Linked DNA regions of Homo sapiens. The main gene of each other region encodes a partner of the protein of the gene in region 2 in a complex. Each region holds a gene or a part of one and is shown on either strand. Other genes may lie near its edges.

Evidence for each region. Proteins that work in one complex are often made in the same cells at the same time.
Region 1: BRD8 (region 2) and ING3 share a complex: the UniProt entries of both Homo sapiens proteins name them as parts of the SWR1-like complex.
Region 3: BRD8 (region 2) and MBTD1 share a complex: the UniProt entries of both Homo sapiens proteins name them as parts of the nuA4 histone acetyltransferase complex.

Annotation. Positions count from the first base shown.
Region 1 is NC_000007.14:120,974,744-120,977,726, reverse strand, and holds the end of ING3 (inhibitor of growth protein 3), read right to left. Parts: coding exon 2,883-2,983; 3' UTR 511-2,882; downstream 1-510. UniProt on the Homo sapiens protein: Component of the NuA4 histone acetyltransferase (HAT) complex which is involved in transcriptional activation of select genes principally by acetylation of nucleosomal histones H4 and H2A.
Region 2 is NC_000005.10:138,168,592-138,175,634, reverse strand, and holds part of BRD8 (bromodomain-containing protein 8), read left to right. Parts: intron 1-3,500; coding exon 3,501-3,570; intron 3,571-4,224; coding exon 4,225-4,274; intron 4,275-4,474; coding exon 4,475-4,597; intron 4,598-4,722; coding exon 4,723-4,803; intron 4,804-5,225; coding exon 5,226-5,290; intron 5,291-6,276; coding exon 6,277-6,413; intron 6,414-6,946; coding exon of another isoform or gene 6,947-7,043. UniProt on the Homo sapiens protein: May act as a coactivator during transcriptional activation by hormone-activated nuclear receptors (NR). Isoform 2 stimulates transcriptional activation by AR/DHTR, ESR1/NR3A1, RXRA/NR2B1 and THRB/ERBA2.
Region 3 is NC_000017.11:51,201,040-51,208,082, forward strand, and holds part of MBTD1 (MBT domain-containing protein 1), read right to left. Parts: intron 5,967-7,043; coding exon 5,849-5,966; intron 2,887-5,848; coding exon 2,752-2,886; intron 2,190-2,751; coding exon 2,101-2,189; intron 1,897-2,100; coding exon 1,662-1,896; intron 1,039-1,661; coding exon 983-1,038; intron 658-982; coding exon 553-657; intron 1-552. UniProt on the Homo sapiens protein: Chromatin reader component of the NuA4 histone acetyltransferase complex, a multiprotein complex involved in transcriptional activation of select genes principally by acetylation of nucleosomal histones H4 and H2A.

The DNA of each region.
Region 1 (2,983 bases), on a different chromosome or scaffold from region 2:
CCTGCCTCCCAGTGTTCTCCCAGTGCTTTGTGTATCCATTACAGCATTCATCAAGATAACACATTTAACATGTCTGCCCCCACCAACTCCCCCCACACACACATATAATACCTTCATCTGTATATTCTCAGAATCTAGGTGCTTAGTATTTGTAAAGTTAAAGAATATTTTTAAGGGTCTTTTTTTCTCTTAAAACCCATCTGCTAAAAAATAAATGTATTTTTATCTGTGAGAGCTGAGGGGAAACCATTGCAATGTCTACACATTAAGGAGTATCTTATACCCCTTTATAACCCAAGTTTGTTAGACATTTATTTGCATAAGATTAAAATAATTAATTAGGTCAATAAGACCATTCCTAAAGTCTAAAGACAAAGGGCACTAATATTGCACAAACCTAAGATGGTTAAAAACCTAAAACGTGGAATTTGCTTTAAAGGAGAAGAGAACAAAAAAATATAAACTGCCCTTGAAAAGAATGATTGTATGCTTATCAAACACTCAGCCTCATTTTGGCATTTAATTAAGCCATTTATTGCTTCAAATGTGTCACCATGAACATTTTGATATACACTCCATAGCAGTAAGGCCTCAATTTTCACCACCTGTGAACTGTGAACCCACATTTGGATATTTTGTCCCAACTGTTACATGAGTTTTGTACAACAGAGATTTTGAATGTGTATTTTATAATACCAAAAATACTTACTATGCCCCTTGGTGTAAATGTCACAAAGAATATTAATAGTTGGCCACATTTTTGGGGGGTTGATGAGGTAGTTCCATGTTTGGCCCCATTATATATGACTCAGATATTAACAGGTTCTACCCATTACTAAATACCTGCACCAAATTTTGGTTTCTTTCTTTACACATGCTTCATAAAATATTCAGTGTTTGAGTTTAAAACTTGTCAAAGTGTTTTCTAAGTGATTTGGTAAGGAGTGGAATTCACACTGAAAGGGGATGTAGCAGCTGGATAACAGGATGTTCCTGACTCAGACAAAGAACTTTCTCTTCAAATAAGGCTGTACATAAGGCTTTTTCCTTTGACCATTTCTATAAAATGAATGAGTTTGGAATAGTCATAATATATAGAGGATGTAAATGATACATGTGAGCATTTCCAGGCAATATACTTTGATAAACGAATTGAATACTACATTATTTATCACTTCTTAAAGGGTTATAAAATCTCAAAATATTGAGTATCATGAAATCGTGATAATCATGATATTATGAAATGATGAGTACTCACAAATGAACCTAACTTGTTTAGGGAGCTGGTAGAGTTGTATAATCAGACTGTGGCAGCTCAGAATCATGGGATCTCAAAGGTGGAAGAGATCTTTGAAATCCCCTATCTACCTCACACCCTTTGGGTAGCACTGCATAGATTTTACACTGTTATCTGAATAAGTTCTAAGAAGCTCATAAGTGGTTTAATTAAAGCAGAAATCTGATGGACCCAGTAAGTTTCAATATAAAATATATATGATATATTAAGTATCTTAAAAGTTAAGGATTTTTCTATCGACCAGACTCAATATTATACTTTAAATAAAACCTCCACTATGCAAATTTATAATTTAAATAGCACCTTAGAATAAGATCTATTCTGCAGTCAGCATCACCCTGGTGTAGTAAGGCCCAGAGTGATACAAAATTTGAATTAACTGTCATATCAGTAAGTGGTAGAATCAAAAATAGCTCAATTTGGAGCTCCCGACCAGGGGGGTCTCTTTACTCTATTTGGCTACATTGCCTCCAGTCAAAACACCCATAACCATTATTTTCGTTTTAACTGCTATACTTACACTTCTTTCATGTCTTTTAGACTGAAGGAAAAGCCAGATGATGTTCTTAAAAAAATACATTGGCATTTCAAATTTACATTAAAAATGTCTTTCCTGTATTCTTATATCACAAACTCTAAACATCATTAAAGACATCACAGATTACACAGTATTCTGTGTCCTGGGTCTCTGATTCTTTTTAGATTATGAAAGTTGAAAGTTAATTGGAATTCAGAAATTTTCATTATTAAGTATGTAAAGTATAAATACAAGTAATTTTTTAAAAACTTTATTTTAACACCTAATACAATTGCAATTTTAAGGATTACTTGCACAAAAAAATAAACACATTTGGTATAAAAATGTATCACTTTAACGCCCTTTCCCCTTCAGTCCCCCGCCCCCTCCCTCATGAACTGCACTCTATCTGGATGCAGAAACATAGAAAGACTAATGGCACAAATTACTTTTTACCTACAGGAGTTTCTGTTTATGTACCCAGGTACTCTAGAGGATACCAGCCCACATTATCACATGAACCATTTCCTTCAGCCTGCTGAATTAGTTTCACAAAGAAACAAAGCTTATTATAAAGGCATTTTAAAAACCATTATCTTAAATTCTTTTTAGAAGCACTGACTTTTTTTTTTTTTTGCAACCATTTATATACAGTGTTACATAACAGCTCTGGAGTACAGTACATGCAGCAGAATATACCTGTTGAATATAAAATACTTTCCTTAAAATCTTCATCATTGGAATTCCTTGAAGTCTAAATCATAGAATGCCCATTACTTTGAGAAAATGGTTGAGGAGTACAAATGTCTGCATATGTTGGCCACTGAAATAATCCAAGGCTAACTGGAATAATATTCATAGCACACCAGGAGTGCATAAATAATTTACTTACATTATTAAAATACAACCCATAAAATTCAAGTTCAAGATCTTATAGGATTGTCTATGTAAATCCTTTAAGTGGTTGCCTGGAAATGCATTGTTTCTTCTTTCTCTTCTCTTCTTTTTAAAGTCCTATATAAAATCTTCAGCTGAAGTTTATTTCTTCATCAAACAAAAGGACCACCTTTATTTGTGTCTGCTGCCTCTTCTCTTCATTGCAGCAGTGCACTGTGGACAGTACCATTTGCCTTTTGGTGCCTCTGTCAATCCAACGCAGCCATAATGGA
Region 2 (7,043 bases):
CTCTTGGCCTCAAGTGATCCTCCCAGTTTAGCATCCTGAGTAGTTGGGAATACAGACCCTTGCCACCATGCTTGACTAATTTTTTGTGTTTTTTGTCACTTGTTGCCCAGGCTGGTCTTGAACTCCTGGGCTCAAGTGATCCTCCCACCTTAGCCTCCTAAAGTGCTAGGATTATAGGCGTGAGCCATCACTCCCAGCCTAGAACTATCATCATTTTACCTTTCTCGGTATCAGCCCCTCACCCCCTTTCTTTTGAATCATCCATTATGAATTTAACTCTCTTGCCACATTTATAAACAATTCAGTACTTTGCTGATTGTCATGCTTCCTAGCATTTTTTTTGTTTGTTTTTTAAATCTAATTTTTGAAGTAATATGTGGCCACCATAAAAACAAAAACACTATATAGAAAGCAATAGCAACAAAGAAATGGGTTAAAAACTTAAGTTTAAGGCCGGGCGCAGTGGCTCACGCCTGTAATCCCAGCACTTTGGGAGGCCGAGGTGGGCGGATCACAAGGTCAGGAGATTGAGACCATCCTGGCTAACACGGTGAAACCCCGTCTCTACTAAAAATACAAAAATCAGGTGTGGCGGCGTGCGCCTGTAGTCCCAGCTACTCAGGAGGCTGAGGCAGGAGAATGGTGTGAACCCAGGAGGCGGGGCTTGCAGTGATTTGAGATCGTGCCACTGCACTCCAGCCTGGGCAACAGAGCAAGACGCCATCTCAAAAAAAAAAAAAAAAAACTTGAGTTTATTTTTTGTCACACATACAGGAAGTCTAGGCAGTCCACAGCTCTCATAGCAACTTCACAGTGACATTAGAGGCTCAGGATATTCTCTTTCTGTTCCACCTTCCTCAGTGCATAGTTTATCTTCTGGTTATCTTATGGTTCACGGTGGCTGCTTGACCTTCAGCTATCACATCCTTGTTCCATGCAACAAGAAGGAAGGGGGTTGGTAAGAAAAGTCACATCTCTTCCCTTTTAACAACTTTTTTGTGATATAATTGATGTGCAGTAAACTGCACCTTTTTTTTTTTTTTGAGATGGAGTCTCTGTTGCGCAGGCTGGAGTGCAGTGGTGCAATCTTGGCTCACTGGAACCTCTGCTTCCCAGGTTCAAGTGATTCTCCCACCTCAGCCTCCCGTGTAGCTGGGACTACAGGCCTTTGCCACCATGCCTGGCTAATTTTTGTATTTTTTGGTAGAGATAGGGTTTTACCATGTTGGCCAGGCTGGTCTTGAACTCCTGACCTCAGATGATCCACCTGCCTCGGCCTCCCAAAGTGCCGGGATTACAGGCATGAGCTACGACACCCGGCCAGTGCACACATTTAGAGCATAAGACATGGTATTTTTGAAATATATATACATTTGTGAAACTATCCACAATTAAGGTAATTATTATAGTATCCATTAACAGATGAATGGGTAAAGAAAAAATATATATGTATACACACACACACACACACACACACAATGGAATACTGTTGAGCCATAAAAAAGAATTAAATCCTCCATTTGTGATTCCATGGTTGAGCCTGGAGGATAGTATGTAAAGTGAAATAAGCCAGACACATAAAGAAATACCATATGATCTCAGTTATATGTGGAATCTAGGAAAAATTATAGACCTCACAGAACTAGAGAATAGAATGGGGCTGGGTGCAATGGCTCACATCTATAATCCCAGAACTTTGGGAGGCCAAGGCAGGAGGTTGCTTGAGATCATGAATTGGAGACCAGTCTGGGCAATATGACAAAACTATAAAAAAACACAAAAATACTAGCCAGGTCTGGTGGTGTGTGCCTATAGTTCCAGCTACTCGGGAGGCTGAGGTGTGAGGATGGCTTGAGCCAGGGAGGCAACATAAGAGAAACTGTTCCCTACAAAAAAGAAAATTAGCCAGGCATGATGGTGCATCTGTGATTTCAGCTACTTGGGTGGGGCTGCAGTGGGAGGTTGCCTAAGCCTCAGAGGTGGAAGCAACAGCAAGCCATGATTGTGCCACTGCACTGAAGTCTGGGTGACAAAGTGAGATACTGTCTAAACAAAAACAATGTGTGTTTTGTATGTGTGTGTGTGTGTGTGTATACACATCACATATATTTGTATATGTATATAAATTGAGCTCATTTTTAAACAAAACAGGTAAACTGGTTTGAAATAGAATCTAATCTGTATATTTCCTCACATTTTTATTAGATAAATAGTGTTAAGAATCTTTTTTTTTTTTTGAGATGGAGTCTCACTGTGTCACCCAGGTTGGAATGCAGTGGCACGATCTCGGCTCACTGCAACCTCCACCTCCTGGATTTAAGTGATTGTCCTGGCTCAGCCTCCCGAGTAGCTGGGATTAAAGGTGCACGCCACCATGCCTGGCTAATTTTTGTATTTTTAGTAGAGGTGGGGTTTCACCACATTGGCCAGGCTGGTCTCAAACTCCTCATCTCAAGCAGTCTGCCCTCCTCGACCTCCCGAAGTGTTGGGATTACAGGCGTGAGTCACCACGCCCAGCCATAGAAAAATAGTATAAGAATACTTGAGTAAAAGTTTTAAATTTTATTATTTTATCAGCAGATACTAAGTCATAAGATTCAAAATTATATGCAGTGTCTTCCTCCCGTTACTATCCCCCGTCTACTAGTGTTAGCAGTTTCTTGTGTCTCTCCAGCAAAATTTTATGTGAGCAAATATTTTCTTTTTCCCCTTCATCCCCCTCATTTTCTAACACAAATGATTATATACTATATATGCTGTTCTTTTTTTTTTGAATGGCGGAGGGGGTGGTCTTACTCTGTCACCCAGGCTGGAGTGCAGTGGCGCGATTTGGGCTCACTGCAGCCTCTTGACTTCCTGGGCTCAAGGGATCCTCCTACCTCAGCTGCCCAAGTAGCTGGGACCACAGGCCGCAGGTACGCACCACCATACCTTGTCGATTTTTTTTTTTTTTTTTTTTTTTTTTTTTTGTAGGGATGGGATCTCCTCGGGTGGCTTGAACTCCTGGGCTTGAGCTGTCCTCCCACCTCTGCCTCCCAGAGTGCTGGGATTACAGGCACGGTCCATTGCACACCTCGCATTCATTGGCTTTTTTTTTTTTTTTTTTTTTTTTTGAGATGGAGTCTCACTCTGTCCCCAGGCTGGAGTGCGGTGGTGAGATCTCGGCCCACTGTGACCTCCGCCTCCTGTGTTCAAGAGATTCTCCTGCCTCAGCCTCCCGAGTAGCTGGGACTACAGGTGCATGCCACCATGCCCAACTAATTTTTGTATTTTTAGTAGAGACGGGGTTTCACCATGTTGGCCAGGTTGGTATTGATCTCCTGACCTTGTGATCCACCCGTCTTGGCCTCCCAAAGTGCTGGGATTACAGGCGTGAGCCACCGCGCCTGGCCATTCGCATCTTTTTTATTCCAAAGTTTGAACTCCAAGCCTTGCACTCTCAGCATACCTCTCCTATTGTTTTCTGCTTGGTGTGTAATAAAGCTTTCCTCATTTTGTAGGGTATCAGTTAGCAGAGCAATCAAGCCCTTTGCAGAACCTGGCCGCCCTCCAGACTGGTTCTCTCAAAAAGTAAGTTCCCAAGCAAGGGCTCTTTTAGAGCAGTCTTTGGGTTGTAAAGTAGGTTCTCTACCAGGCCCTGACTTTTAGTTACAAAGCTTTTATACCATGATGTGGGAAAATAGTTGAGAATACCTTTTTCTTTTTCCTACTGTTTGCTAATCCATCCATGTATGATCATATTAGACCTTTCTTATTGGTGTTGCATAACAGTTAAGAGCCCAAGCTTGGGAATTAGATCTGGGTTCATTATTACTCCATCTAAAAACTTTGGGCCATGATCCTCTGTTTTTTCATTTGTAAAATAGAGATAAAAGAGTTGCTTCAGGATTGTTGTGAAGCTAATTGAAGTAATACATGTAAAACATTTAACACAGTGCCTTGCATGTAGTAACTACTTGGTAGATATTAGCTATAAATATTGGCAGTTAGGTTGCCTTTCCGCAAATGCACAAACTCCAGTCCATAAGACTGTCTTTTTCTGTGTCTTGTTTTGATTATTTTGAACTGATTTGATTATAAAGTTACTTGCCCTCCTAGTAAACCACTCCCGTCTTACATATAGTTCTCTTCTCTAAATCTTACTCTAATCTCTTGAAACTTTGAAAGGTCATTTCTTTCCAGCCTTGCTCATCACATTTTCACTTTTTTTTTTTTTTTTAATAGCATTGTGCTTCCCAGTACTCGGAGCTTTTAGAGACCACTGAGACACCAAAGTGAGTACAAAGCCAGGTACTTCAGCCATATTTCTTTAGTGGAGAGTATTTACTGAGGAATTCTGGTTTATACTTAGTTATGATACTGGATGATTAAAAAATAGCAGAAGTTATCTATGATTAAGTGGTAAAAGCAAGTAGGAGAGGGGATAAATGTTATGTTATTTGAATATGAATTTTTTTTTTTCAATTTTCCACAGACGGAAACGAGGTGAAAAGGGAGAAGTGGTGGAAACTGTTGAAGATGTTATTGTTCGGAAATTGACTGCTGAGCGAGTTGAAGAACTAAAGAAAGTGATAAAGGAAACCCAGGAGAGATATAGGTACTTATCAGAGAGAATGCCAAAAAATTGAGAAAGACATAAGGGACTGTCTTCTGGTACTGGTCAGAACTTTTAAAATAGCAGATTAAAAAACCCAGTCTACCTACCTCTCTTTCTTCCTATAGACGGCTAAAGAGAGATGCAGAACTAATTCAAGCTGGACACATGGACAGCAGACTGGATGAGCTTTGCAATGACATTGCAACGTGGGTTATATTATATTGTTCTTCTGTGCTTCTTTCTTTTTACCCTCTTTTCCCCTCAAGTAATCTGGCTTATTTCCTCCAATTGCCGTCCCTTTAGACTTGAGACAGATTCTGGAAGGGGAAAGCTGCAAAGTGGTTTGGTGGCTGGGAGGGGGGAGTGAGTCCTAGAAGGTAATATAATGGGACATTTCAGTATGAAAACATAACTTAGTTCTAACTTAAGAGTGGCTATAGTTTGCCTGGGTGAAGAACTGGGAGTTAGGCAGTATACCCCAATTCACTGTTTTGCTGGTTAGAATTCCTGTTTAGGCCTTTCTTCCAGAAAGTGCTGGCCTGGCAAAAAAAATTACTTTGTAAGGGTTCTGTGAACTCTGGGGAGGAGCCAGAGCTGTCTAGCATCTAACCCTTAATTCCCTGTTTAGGAAAAAGAAATTGGAAGAAGAGGAGGCTGAAGTAAAGAGGAAGGCTACAGATGCTGCATACCAGGGTAAGCTGAACCTAGTATGCCTCTTTAGCAATTGATTGCACAGTACTGCATGCTAATGACAGTTGGACTGTTTTGTAACATAGAATACATTGATTTAAATTTACTTGCAGTTTTCTCTTCTACCAGAATAAAAACATCCCTTAATGTCTTAAGAAGAAACTCCTAGAACATGCGTTGTGCTCAGATCTCACTAGACCTTAAATTAACTTCAGGACACAAAGGCTTGATGAGATATTGAACATAATGTTTTAGAAGTCAAGGGCCTGTGAAAAGATTGAGAATAGCTCAGTCATTAGATGAGGAGAAATTTAAGCATTTACAACTCTAGGAATACATGCTGTGCGCCAGTGAGGTCTTTCCCTGTTTTTGTTTTTTGTTTTTCCCCCAGGCGGAGTTTTGCTCTTGCTGCACAGGCTGGAGTGCAGTGGCGCGATCTTGGGTCACTGCAACCTCCGCCTCGCGGGTTCAAGTGATTCTCCTGCCTCAGCCTCCCGAGTAGCTGGCATTACAGGCGGCTGCCACCACACCTAGCTAATTTTTGTATTTTTAGTAGAGATGGGGTTTCGCAGGCTGGTCTCAAACTCCTGACCTCAGGTGATCCACCTGCCTTGGCCTCCCAAAGTGCTGGGATTACAGCCGTGAGCCACTGCACCTGGCCTTCCTGTTCTTAAAAGCAGAATATTAGTAAGTTGCTAAAGAGAATATTAAAGGATGTTTAAACTACTTTCCCACTCCAAGGACCTTTGGGATAATTAAGTAGTTTGAGATTGTTAAAGGAGTTTCTTAGTGTGAGAATTGCCCTTAGGAAAAATTAGGCTAAAAAGTTATCCATCTCTAGAAGTGTTAAAGCTTTCTAATCCAAACTTATTATGCTGCTTTAGTAATGCAACATACCTATTTGTCCTTTATTGTATAATAGCAGACTAGTGTCAAGTTTCATTTATTTAATCTTGAAGATTTGGACATTGTTCTCTTTTATGTTCTAGCTCGTCAAGCAGTAAAAACACCCCCCCGGAGGTTACCCACTGTGATGGTTCGCTCTCCTATAGATTCTGCCTCCCCAGGAGGTGATTATCCACTTGGGGACTTGACTCCAACCACTATGGAAGAGGCTACCTCTGGGGTGAGTATATTTCCATCTGTGGGAATTGATCAGTGAAGGGGCAATAAGCCGGCAGAGCTGAGCGATGAGGAAACCACTTTTGGCCTAGAGGCAACTTCCTCTCTTGATCTGAATGCTAAAGACTTAATTTACCATGTTCTGTGCTCTGAGATAAGAACGGACCTAAAAGCATTGAGGCTTTTGACCTTTTTGAGAGATAGGTAAAAAACTATTTTAAGAAATTGTTTCATACTAGTCTTATGAAATTCCTGCTGAAATAAGGGACAAAATCCTTGTAAATGTAATATTGGTAGTGGGTAAGGAGTTCATAAAAGGCAGGTTGGGTGGGATGGTTGAGTCACTGTGGGTTTGAGTGGATGAAAGAGAAGATTGTGGGGAAGAAAAGTATGGCTAAGAGCAGGAGGGATAGAGGGTTTCTGGGCAATTCCACTCAGGACTAATAAAATAATAGTTAGACACACTAACCCATACAGATTAGTAGGGAACCTTCCATAGTTTGAGAAGTCAGATAAAGGTTCTCTGTTGTCTCTTAGGTAACCCCCGGGACTTTGCCGAGTACCCCAGTCACCTCGTTTCCTGGGATTCCTGACACCCTTCCTCCAGGCTCTGCACCCTTAGAAGCCCCCATGA
Region 3 (7,043 bases), on a different chromosome or scaffold from region 2:
CCACTCTGAAGGCTGAAGTGGGAGGGTCACTTGAGCCTGTGATCACACTACTGCACTCCAACCTAGGCGACAGAGAGAGACTGTCTCAAAAAAAAATGAACAAACAAACAAAAAACCCAAGAATTTCTCTTCTAGGTCTTTTTGTAAGAGCAGTTTCAGATGAGGGGGAAAAGAGAAAAGCAGCAAAAACTACTACCAAAAGGAAGAAAAAGGCCTAAAGAGGAAACACAGGAAACTGAAGATAAACTTGGCCTTGTTACAATTCTGAATTGGACTAGCCTTGTCTAGAAGTAACTTAAATAAATATTTTTCCTCTAAATTAGGATATACTTCCATAAATAAGTGTAGCAGACTCAAAATGACAATCTTGACAATAAACTATGTAAGATCAGAGGATTCAAATTTATTTTGAAATTCCTAGCAACCTTCTCCCCAGTGAAGATATACACATACACATTTTATGTCAAAACGAATATGCTTGGGGACTCCTTCTATTAGCTTATACCCAAATCCTATAATTGCATTTCTATATTTTAAAACCTATTATCTTACCTTTCTAATGGTTGCGACACATATTGTAGAAAGATTTAATGGGTCTATAGCTTCCAATTTCATTCCTTCCTTGAACCATTCCCCACTCTGGTCTACTTCTTTTACCTAAAGAATTATATGAAAGCACATCTACTGTTACAAATGTTGTTATTTTGATAATTAAAATATTACCAATGTGAAAAGATTTACCAGGTGCCTTCTCCTACCTACCTAATATTATAACTCAAACTTCCATTAAGGTTTAGAGAGAATTCAGACAAATAGAATTTAAGAATAATTATAATAAAGAGTTGTGACACCTATGAATTTACAAGGTCTTAATTCTTTTAAGTGAACATATGTAATTGTGATTTCCGTAATTTTAGGAAAAAACCCACAACCCTCTTTCAAACCTAATTTACAAATGAGGGTTCTTATAAAAACTTCTTACCTTAGCAAATAAATGTGGTGGTGTATCAAAATGTCCATCCTGTTTCTTTGTAATATCTACAAGGAAAAGTTACACACTAATCTGTCAGCATTTGTGAGAAGACCAAAAACCACGTTCTTTGAAGGCTTCAAACTCACAAAGTATGTCATACTATAAAACATGGCAAGAAGACATGCCTTCTACATTTGGGGTGAATATTCTTTAATAGTCTTTTCTCTCTTCAGAGTACATGTGCATATATGCTTTTAAATACATTCAGCCAATTTTAATGCTCATAATTTTAATGTAATTCCCTAGTTAGAAAATTACAACTTTAGAAGCATGTTTTCATGTGCTTAGTATTAAGTCTAACCACATTTAATCTTGCTATTTTGATTAAAATTGAATGGAAAGGGAAAGGTATCTTTAGATCTTTCAAATGGGCTGAATAATAAAAGAAAGAAACAATTATAGTTGTGACCAGAAGAAGTTCCTTCTTTTGGAGAACAAGTGGAAGGAATATAAAAAAATTTATTAGGACACTAATATGGTGTGAACCTTCACTAATTAAGGTAGAAGAAGCAGCCCAAACAACTAGAATGCTATTTTTCATCTATGCAATTCTGCAGAGAAAAATAACCAACTAGTATAATCAGCCTCAATGATGCTTTTGACAGGAGTTCTTGTGATAGGTGCTTACCAGATCTTTTGAATCGATGACCTATGCTTCGAGACCAACCAATATGATGTATTAATGGGCTGTGCATATGGCACCAGAAGTCATCTGTTCTATCTTCGCTTTCTTCATACACTAGTCTTAATCTTCCTCCAATTACACTTTCCACCACTGCTACTCGTGTTCGACACAAATGCCTCTTGTCAACCACTTCTACTCTCATGCAAGGTTTGAAAGGATACTGCATACTCTCTGAAACCTTAAAAGCATACAAAAAAAACTGCTCGAAATTCATGACAAAGGTCTACAAGAAATTTTTGTATTATACTGTAAAAAATACTGAATGCACTTGAAATGTAACACAGATCATCTGGTTCACAAAATTAAACCAATTCCTTAAAAATGTTCTCTGTTACCCTTGTTTTTTAGAGCTCTTCAGTCTTTATAAGATCCTGTTTTTTACCTTTTGGGAGAAATCAGGAGGCAGTGTTTTGGCACCAGTAAGTCGTTTCACTAGAAAAGCTTTCCAGTTTGTATATTTATGCTGAATAGCTAAAATAGAAGAAATAATCAGTTATACTTTAGCAAAAAAGAACTGCTTCATAAATTATTTGTTAAAAAAGTAACAAATTTCCTTGCAAAGTCAGGCTATTAACATTCTGAAAAGTAACAAATATAGAGAAAGCAAGTATATGCCTTGCCAGCAAAAAGCTGCTTAACACCAAAAAAACTATTTTAATTTCTTTCTTTTTTTTTGAGATGGAGTCTCGCTCTGTTGCCCAGGCTGGAGTGCAGTGGCGTGATCTTGGCTCACTGCAACCTCCATCTCCCCGGTTCAAGCGATTCTTCTGCCTCAGCCTCCTGAGTACAGGCATGCACCACCATGCCCAGCTAGGGAGAAGTTGAGATGGGGTTTTGCCATGTTGGTCAGGCTGGTCTCAAACTCCTGACCTCAAGTGATCCGACTGCCTTGGCCTCCCAAAGTGCTGGGATTACAGGTGTGAGCGGCCATGCCCGGCCTTTAATTTCCATATTACTCTAACATTACTATGTGTAAAATAGCATTAAAGTACACATATAAAAAAATTACGGTAAGGGTAAATAAACTACTTACTTCTAGGAGGAACAAGAGGTTTTCCGCTGGCTGCACACCAACCAACTGGATGGATATCAGAACCACATATATTGCACCAGAAGTCCAGACCAGAGTCATTTTCAAATCCTTCATATCTTAAAAGGGCATTGTAACCTGAAACCCAGAAATAAATCACTACATAATAAGAAAATAAAATTAAATAAAACAATACAGCATCTGATAGCAGTTGTCAAACTAGTGTCTATCTGCAATACAATCACCTGCAGGGTTTGTTAACAGACAGATGGCTGGGTCTCACTCCAGAGATTCTGATTTTGTAGATCTTGGGTGGGAACTGAGAATATGCCTTTTTAACAAGTCCTCAGGTGATGCTGTTGCTGCTGGTCTATGAACCAAACTTTGAGAACCATCTGTTCAGTGCAAACAGTTCAACTGTTTTCAGAGCATGGCATCCTTACATGTATTTCAATTGTACCCATAATTTCTTTTTCTTTTCTTTTTTGAGATGGAGTCTTGCTCTGTTGCCTAGGCTGGAGTGCAGTGGTGCAATCTTGCCTTACTACAACCTTGGCCTCCTGGGTTCAAGCGATTCTCCTACCTCAGCCTCCTAAGTAGCTGGGATTATAGGCATATATATGTAATTATACATATAACATACATATTTATGTATAAGCATATAAACATATAAAAATACATATTATATATTTATTTATATTATATATAATTATATATATATATATATTTTATGAAGACAGGGTCTTGCTCTATCGCCCAGGCTGGAGTGCAGTGGTGTGATCTTGGCTCACTGCAACCTCTGCCTCCTGGGTTCAAGTGATTCACCTGCCTCAGCCTCTTGAGTAGCTGGGATTACAGGCGTGCGCCACCATGCCCAGCTAATTTTTGTATTTTGTAGAGATGGGGTTTCACCATGTTGGCCAGGCTAGTCTCGAACTCTCAACCTCAGGTGATCTGCCCGCCTTGGCCTCCCAAAGGGCTGGGATTACAGGCATGAGCCACTGTGCTTGGCCTTGAAATGTATTTCAAAGAAATTGCTTTATCCAGCTGCTTAGGTGGCCAATTACTCCTGGGTAATTTGAATGTGGCTACTTTAAGAATCTAAATTTTTCTGTCGTATGTATTTGGAAATAAGATTTGAATATGCCAGGTAAAAAGTTCAATAAACACAAAGAAAATTATGTAAAATGAGTTAAAAACTATGTCTTAGGCAAATAGGAAGGCTTACTCTTGGAAAGTACAAAAAATATGTAATATATCCTATTTATAATTCTATAAACTTTATGTTGATAAAAGATTACGATTTAATTTAAGGCCTTTAATGAAACAGAAAAAGGCCAATATATGTGTATTTCAGGTTAGGAGACAAGTTTAGTCAGCATTTTCATGTTTGTGAAAATTTATAGCCTTAAATGTTCAGTTTTAAAATTCAATAATTTCTCAGAACAATTTATGAGTTTGCTAATTACTGCTGAACTCTAGCTTCTGGTTAACATTAGGCTCACTTCTACAATGGCATTAAAGTGGCTTAAAAGAAGATACATGATGCAGTTAGATAAAACAGAAATGTAAAATCGGAGATGGAAGGCAGAAGTAATTTTTGGATAGTAAATGCACTGATCTTAAGAGCTATTTAAATGTAACTAACTTAAACACCCAGGGCAAAAATAATATGCTGTTGTTTTAAATTACAGTGTAGAGAATAATACAAGCATTTAGTGAATGCTTATACAGCTGGGAAAATGTTTCAAGAAAAAGATGGGGAATTGACTTGGGTAGTAGTACAGTTCAGTACAGAGATGGGACACTCTTGCAAGAGTAACCCAAGGCACAGAGGTGACAAAAACGTGCTGTATGAAAGGGAGAGGGAGACTGGCCTCATCACAACAGATCATTTATGCTGGAGAACTACAATACATCTGGCATGTGGTATATGGTGCAACTCATCAATAGTCATAAATGCTGGCTATCTTGATCCTTTAAGTACAAAGAGGCCATAAAAGATGCTTGAACAGAAAAATAAAATTAAAATAATTTTTAGGTAAATTAAGTCAATTAGCAGTACACAACAGAGCAGTCTACAGTGTGTTTTGAGGAGAATGCCGGAAATAAAACTAGAGAGAGTGGGAGGAGTTAAAAATCTGTCACAGTAGTAATTGAAGATAACTTTTCTTATGAGTGGCTGCCTGCCTCTCCTCCACAATGCCCTACTACACTACTCACTGAGTATCTTGTCATATTAATACCTGGTAGTAGTCAACATTTGGCCGATGTGAACATGCTGGAAAAAATACAAGTCTTATACTTCTGGATATCATCTTTTGTCCACATTGTCTACCATAGTAGATTCCTAACATGTTTACTTCATGAGCAGTAAAGGGCTTGGTATGGTGGAGGCAGTGGGAATAAACAGAACGGAAGAACCCAAGATATATAAAATTATCAACACTTGTATCAATTTGGTATTAAGGTTCTTACCACTTTATTTTTATTTTTTTAAAATGGAGAATGGGTCTCGCTATTTTGCCCAGGTGGGTCTTGAACTCCTAGGCTCAAGCTAACCTCCCGCCTCTGCCTCCCTAAAAGCTGGGATTACAGGCATGAGTCACTGTGGCCAGCTCTTACCACTTTTTTTAGTACCTCAACTTTTGTTACTTTTCAAAGTAACATATACATTATGGCCTATATATCTGGTCTATTGCTGGATTATTTTTATGGCTGTGATCTAAGAATTACTTTTACATTTTTAATGGTTGAAAAGAAAAAAAGGATATTTCATGATACATAACTATTATATGAAATTCAAATTTCCTGTAAATAAAGTTCTACTGGAACACAATCATGTCCATTTGTTTATGTATTGCTAAGGGTGCTTTCATGCTATAATGATAGAGACGGATAGCTGTGACAGAGATCATATGGCCTGCAAAGTTGAAAATATTTGTTTGGCTTTTCACAGAAAACAATTTGCCAACCCCTGCCCTATATCATAACATATTTTTTATTTGGCAATACTTGCAAAATTTATAAACATGCTTTTTTTACGAAAGGTTACAAGGATCTCTGCATTTTCTACTAAACTATTATTCATGCTTTTCACCTGCTAATTTTACAATTCCAGCAATCCAGAAGACTTTGGTAGGTAGGCTGCAGTCTGTATTGGGAACTTCTACTCTCACATTTTCTGAGATATCACCCCAGCAGGTCCCCATAGGTGCCTGTCACATAAAAATCATTAAATTATTGTCTTATTAACATAAAGCCTAAAACATATCAATGAAAATTAAGCAGTACCATCAATAATAGGAATATTAAACTAAAAATGTCATTTTAATTCCGTTTGTTTCCTAGAATTCTATCTGGAAAAAGCCAGTTTCAGGGACAAACAAGATAAAGAGAAAATTCACATATATTAGACTAGATTCATGCTGACTTCAAAATCTGATACTGTCCTAATATGAGATTTAAGCAGCGATTTTTCTATGAGTGGAATTACAAACTCAATAGCAGATTTAATAGGATTAAACTGATTTAAGAAATTTTTAATATGTACTGAGTGAATACACTTCACCCTAATTTCTACTTTTAAAAGATCTGGCCTAAGAGCAGAAAGAAAAACAATTCCAATCAGCAGTGTGGTTTCCAACAACATGAATAAGAGAAATGAAAATTTTCAATTTAAATTAAATTCATAGATTAGAAATCTAGTCCACATAGATGGACGTGAGGGAAAAGCACTGGATAAAGTTATTAAGAAGGTGGAGTTGAAGAGTTTTGGAGATGAGTACCATGGTAAACTATTTAAATTATTATTTCAAAATTTCTCATGTAGAAATTACTATAAAGAGAAAACTTCCAATGTTAGAACCGGTAATCACTAGCCTCCCACAGCAAATGGTTAAGATGGGGACTCGGAAAATCAATTAAATGAGCATCATGAAGGGATTTTCTGAAATCTAACAGATGTTCCCAAAGTATTGTTTCCATTATATTTTAATCTTTAAAACTCAAGGCAATTCACAATTACTTGGAACTTATGCAATGGTAAATTAAATCAAATAAGCAAATTTAAGAATATAAATGCTGATAACACTAAACAGTTTGTGTTGCTCTGGACAGTCAGTTCCTCATTCAATTTAGAATGTTGATCATAAAGAAAAGGATTATGTGAGGTTATAAAAGACTTGATAGTATGAACAAATCAGGAAAAACCAAAATAGCCTCAAAGCTCAAAGATGAGCAAAGATATCTAGGAGTTACATGAACTAGCCAATTTGAACATTAGGCAAATGTCC